Regions from separate parts of the Homo sapiens genome. Here region 2 is linked to region 1. Evidence: fine-mapped expression QTL. A gene starts in region 1. The other region holds a variant in brackets. All regions are shown on one strand. Distances are from middle to middle. Region 1 holds the start of DUOXA1 (dual oxidase maturation factor 1). Region 2 holds the start of LOC124903481 (a long non-coding RNA gene).

Evidence for each region. PIP is the estimated chance that this variant, and not a neighbour inherited with it, causes the effect. A credible set is the group of variants that fine-mapping cannot tell apart.
Region 2: its variant is the best candidate, but not a certain one, in a credible set for the expression of DUOXA1 in unexposed skin (GTEx, PIP 0.55).

The regions. Positions count from the first base shown.
Region 1 is chr15:45,128,344-45,131,357 of GRCh38, forward strand. DUOXA1 (dual oxidase maturation factor 1) reads right to left here and starts at 1,536. Exons shown (of 9, transcript NM_001276266.2): 1 at 1,509-1,536; 2 at 1,117-1,272; 3 at 675-791. DUOX1 (dual oxidase 1) reads left to right here and starts at 1,651. Exons shown (of 34, transcript NM_175940.3): 1 at 1,651-1,755.
Region 2 is chr15:45,176,201-45,178,700 of GRCh38, forward strand. SHF (Src homology 2 domain containing F) reads right to left here. Exons shown (of 7, transcript NM_001394037.1): 2 at 1,965-2,106. It overlaps LOC124903481 (a long non-coding RNA gene), which reads left to right and starts at 2,104. Exons shown (of 2, transcript XR_007064608.1): 1 at 2,104-2,500. The variant C/G (reference allele first, on the strand shown) is at 1,296.

The DNA of each region.
Region 1 (3,014 bases):
CATCTGCTGGAAACTATAGAGTAAGGGCCACTAATTCTCCACAAGTGGGGAGTGGGTGACATGGCTGGAGTTGCCAAGACCTCTGATTGGTAATGCACAGCTACTGCAATGTGATGCTTTTTTCTCTGATTGGGGTAGACCCCATTAAACGTTTACAGCTGTGGCTAGCTAAGGGGACCCTGTCAGGAACTCCTGTGCTAGACTTTCCTCTTCAAGGAAGGGGTCTGTGTGTACGTGTGTATCTGTGTATGAATGTATATGTGTGTTGTTGCACAAAAATAGGAGTTAAGTGGAGAAATTGAACAAGATCTGAAAAGTGGATTGGAGGCAGGATTCCCCAGTAAGGGCTGATGTGGATAAGGAATTCAAGGGTGCAGAATCATGCAAGCCAAAGTATCCAGACTCGAGTTAAACTGGGATGGCGATTCGATGTCTATAAACCTTGTGGCATTTATGGCCTTAAGAGGTTTTCCTTGCCTCCCCAGTTTCTTACCAAACTCTCTCTTTGAAGAACTCCCACTTGATCCGAACTTGGTCTGGATGAAAGCAGGAAGTGCAGCCCTAGGTGCCAGGGCGGGAGCAAGCACTTCAAGACCCCCTCCAAAATCACCTGGACCGCACAGATCTAAGCAGCCGCATCCCCCACCACCCACACCCGGACCACTATTCCCTACCTTCCCCTCTTCCAAACAGTGCGTGTGTGGCAGCCTGCGCCTCTCGCCTTCCCCCGTGGAACCTCACACGAAGCGCCCCCGGGGGTGTGATTAAAGAGGGAACCAGGTCCCGACGTTCTGTGAACAAACGCGCGCCCTTACTCTCAGTGGGGCTCCCGTCCGACCCCCACTCCTCTCCTAACTCACGTAAGGACCCGGCTGTGACCGGACAAACCGGGTCTGGGGTGCTTCCAGTCACTCTTCAAGTCACTCCCAAACTTCTCAGACTGCACCCGAGGCTCTGCGGCGCCGCCTCCCTCTCCCGGCCTGGTACAGAGAAGGGCTGGGTGCGCCAGGACAGTAGTACCGGGGTCTGCCAGCTCCGCAGAGGTCCCTCCAATCCCCCCTCCTCCTCTGCGCCCCCCCACCCATGCCCAGCAATCCCAGCAGCTCCAGCGCAAACCTAGCGACGCAGTTCCGGGTCTGGCGGGGCGCGGGCGCGGCTCGCAGGGCGGTGGGACCCCCAAGACCTCACGAGGATCCCCGGAGGGAGACGTGACTCCGGGGTCTTAGAGGGGTTTAGGTCGGATGGGTGACTTGCTTTGACGCCTGGCCTGGTCTGTGGGTGGCAGGTGATCGATGGCCTTGGACTTGGAGCCCAGACCCGACGGTGTCGAGAGGATCTGAGGAGAGTCTCCCCTCCCCATACCCTCTCCGCCTCCCACCCTCTCCCCAGCCCCATGGGACTTGTGAAGGCGGACTTGCTTTTTTCGCCGTCCACACAACCGCACTAGCCGGGCCTTCGGCACCGACGGAACATCTCTACCTGCGCCCCGGGAGCCCTCGCCGTCTCACCTCGCGCGCTGCCGTCCGCTGGAAGCACCTCCGCGCCTCCCCAGGCGCCAGACTCCATCCCGCCCCACTGCGCCCCGCCCCGTGGCTGAGCCGAGCCGGGCCGTGCCTTCCCCTCCTCACCCCCAGCCCCGCCCGTCCCGGCGCAGAGCTGCAGAGGCACCGGACGAGAGAGGGCTCCGCGGGCCCAGCTGGCAGCCAGGCCGGAGACAAGTTGCAGTCCCGGGCTCTGGTGACGCCGTGGCCGCAGGTCAGATTTGGGAGGGCTTTTCCCGGCCCGCGGGCCTGGGCGCTCCGGGGGAGGGAGCTCCAAGGGCAGGGTGGCGGGGGAGCCGCAGCTCCTCCACGTTATGGAAGAAAGGGGAATGCTAGCCCCCTGCGCCTCCGATCTTATCCTAAGGCTAAAACCGGTCCTGTTAGGGCCTGTCCTCTGCCCAATCAAGGTTTTGAGAGACTGGGTTCTTTGGGACCTGGGAATGTTGGGTGGCCTAGTTTGCCTGGGCCTGCGGGTTCTTCTCCTGGCACCAGCACAACATACCAGGGAGGGAGCTTTGGGCTTTAGGATCCAAGCTTTCCCCCTCAGCCCTCCCTTAGGACCAAGATGGCCTTGACCCATCTTCCTCCCACCTCAGGGCCACCAGGGTCACCACTCTAGGGCTTCAGGCTGGAAAAGCAGCCATGTGGGGCAAGAACAGGCAGGCCTGTGTTCTCTCTCTGGTTCTGCCGCTGGCTCTGCCTGGGGCTTCACTGCCCTGTCCTGGGCAACCTTCCTGTCAAGGTTGTTGAGAAGTTACTGCCCCATCGTTGTGTAAATCATTAAGGGCAACCCACCCACAAGGAGTGGTTATTAAGCATGTCCACCTTCCTCTTCAGGTCATCCCCACACAGCCTGGTCTGAAAGCCCATTTCATGCCCTTAGGGGCTGAGTGGTACATTAGCGTTGAGGCCCAGGATCCTGAAGACATGGTGGTGGCGGGGGAGGGGAATGACATCTTGGGATCAGGGAAGGACCGCTGTGGCTACTTCCGTATATCCAGCTTTACAGCTTCAACCATCCAGAGCCCAGCTCTTCATGCACTATTAAAGGCCAGCACCTGGACAGACTCTGTGAAATGCAGCAGGTGATACTGAGCTTTCCAGTTATGGCAGGGCCTAGGTTTTTTCATTTAATAGGAGATGGAGTAGGGATGAGGTCACTCCCTGGGTTCTCTCCTCTAGACAACCCATCCAGGAACCCTGATGTTTGGCTGGGGATGAGGCTTTCCCTGAGCTCCTTTCTTCCTCTATCCTAACCCCAATCTCCAGGTTGCCTTCAGGAGGTCTTCGCCGGCTTTAGGTACTCCTTACTCGCACTCAGGAGTCCCAGCCTGAGTCCTCTGCTGCCTCTGTTTCCCTGTTGACTCTGGGTGGAGAGAGAGAGAGCAGGAAGCTTGCACTAAATACATGAGCACCTGGTAGTGCATCCCTTCTGGATCCAACCAGAGGAGACAAGCTCCCGCCTACCCTCTC
Region 2 (2,500 bases), 48 kb after region 1:
CTTCGACAAGTTACGTTCATCATCATAAAGACCTTTCACTTTGACATTCCATGGTTTCAAACTCATCACCTTCTCTAAAGCTAATTGGTTCTCTTTTTGGGATCACTGACCCAGCCCTCACCATTATTTTGTCCTTCCTGACTATCTCGAATGCTAATATCTGACCTTCAGTTGTGTGGCCTCCTGTACCACTTCAGGTCACACAAGTCACATCTGCTTCTCCAAAATGACTATTGGAAAGGCAGTGACCATCCTCCCCACGGACCCGGCAAAGACTTTCTTTCTGATCACCCCCATTTGGCCTCTCCCTAGATCCTCTCTTGGCCTCTCTTTCCCAAGACTAGGTCTTATGCATTTTTCCCTATCCTAATTCCTTGAACTGTATGCCCAGCCTCATGGCACTTGCTGCATCTGTATTTCCAGTCATTTGGGTCCATTGCCATAAAGACCTTTCGCTTTGACATACCATTGTTTCAAACTGACCACCTTCTCCAAAGCTAGTAGTTCTTTTATTGGGATCACTGACCCCAGTGAAAATATGATAAAAGCTATGGAGCTACTCCCCCAAAAAATGTGCTCCCATATTTTCACATATAATTTCAGGGCATTCATGGGGGCTTCCTGGGTTCCACACCCTCTGACCTAAATGGGGTAGTCAGCTTCTCACTTTCTCCATTTCTGTCTACTACACTGTTCTCCTTGGACCTGGCCCTCCTTCATTCTTCAAATCCCATCTGTTCTTTGCCAATACCCAGTGACCTTCACCCTCATCTTTCCGTATATAGATTACTGCTAGGGTGAACCTCCATTCTGCAGGCTTGTGTTTCCAAGAGCTCCATGGAATAATAGTCCTGGGATATTCTTGACCACTCTCTGCCTCCCTTACCACCTCTCCCAAGTAGGAAGAGCAGTTTATTGTATTGGTCAGTGAATGCACACTCTCTTTTCCTGAAGAGAAAGAACATTCTGGTTCATGCAGTCAGTGGCCTGCTCCTGTGCTGTCTTTGACCCAGAGCCCCAGGTACCCAAGGGCAGGCTCTGAGCTTGGATGGGGACAAGCTCTGGCTCTTCTTTTGCAGGGTTCCCCCACTAGGCCTACTGAGTTGCCCAAGCCTGATTGGGCAAGTTTAATTCTGTGGTGAAGTATTAAGAAGCCCATTGTGATGACACATAAGCCCATTGCAGTGAACATAAGTAATGTTCTCTAATCAACTTTATCAGTAATAAAGCTGACATTTTCATCCTGTTCCTCTCTTGCTCAAGAATTCATCATGGCTCCACTCCCCATTTTGAAG[C/G]AAGTCCAGATACCTCATTCCAGCCTATGAAGCACTGCTCCGCCCCTCTCGGACTCTCTCATCTAGGTTCCCATGCACACCCAGCACTAACATCATTTGCTCCTGAACAAACTTCCTCTCACCCTGCCTCAGGGCCGTGGCTTGGACAGACCCACCCTGTCCTCTCTGATCTCCCCTATTTGATCTCTTTCCCCTGGACTGTCTCTCAGCCTCTGTTCCCAAGACCAGATCTTACTCTTTTCTCTCTAGCCTCACTCTTTGGACTACTTGCCCAGGCTCATGGCACCCACTGTAACTGTATTTCTAGTCATCTTTCTCCAACTGCCATGAAGATGTTTCATTTCAAACTCATCCCCCCTCCCAAGGCTAGTGGTTCTCTTTTTGGGATCACTGATCCTCCCAGCCCTCACCACTCTTTTCCTTCCTATCTTGAATACTTCTATCTGAACTTCAGTTGTGTGGCCTCCTATACCACTTCAGGTCTCACAGGTCACAGCTGCTTCTCCAAAATGACTCTGAAAGGCAATGACCATCCTCCCTAAGGACCTGGAAAAGACTTTCTCCATATTTTCCAGGGACCAAAGAATCAGTCCTTAGACTTGTGAGTCGCAAAGCCTGTTCTGCAGAGCCCAGGCCTCAGGGAGCACCTCCCCTGCCCCTGTCACTCACCGGCCATCATCTTTTGAGCCTCATAGGGCTCCATGTAGCCATCATTTTCAGGGACCTTCTCTGGGGCTCCTGAAGCTCCTGCTGAGCCTTCGCCAGTCTCCTGAACATCAAACGGGTCCGCATAGTCTTCTAGGATAGCTAGCTGTGGGAGGAGAGTGAAGAGAGTGGGCTTCAGGGAGCAGAGAGGCAACTCTGCTTCTCCCAAGGTACTCTGTCCATGGGAGCAAGAGTCCCAAGTAGGCTGCCTTCGACCCAGACCCCCAGGTACTCAAAGGAAGGCTCTGAGCTTGGATGGGGACAAGCTCTGGCTCTTCCTTTGCAGGGCTCCCCTACTAGGCTGCCAACCAAGTGGTACCTCTTTCCTTCTTTCTTTTTTTTTTTTTTTTTTGAGACAGAGTCTCACTCTGTCACCCAGGCTGGAGTGCAGTGGCGTGATCTCGGCTCACTGCAACTTCCATCTACCGGGTTCACACCATTCTCCTGCCTCAGCCTCCCGAGTAGCTGGGACTACAGGCACGCACCACCAAGCCCAGCTA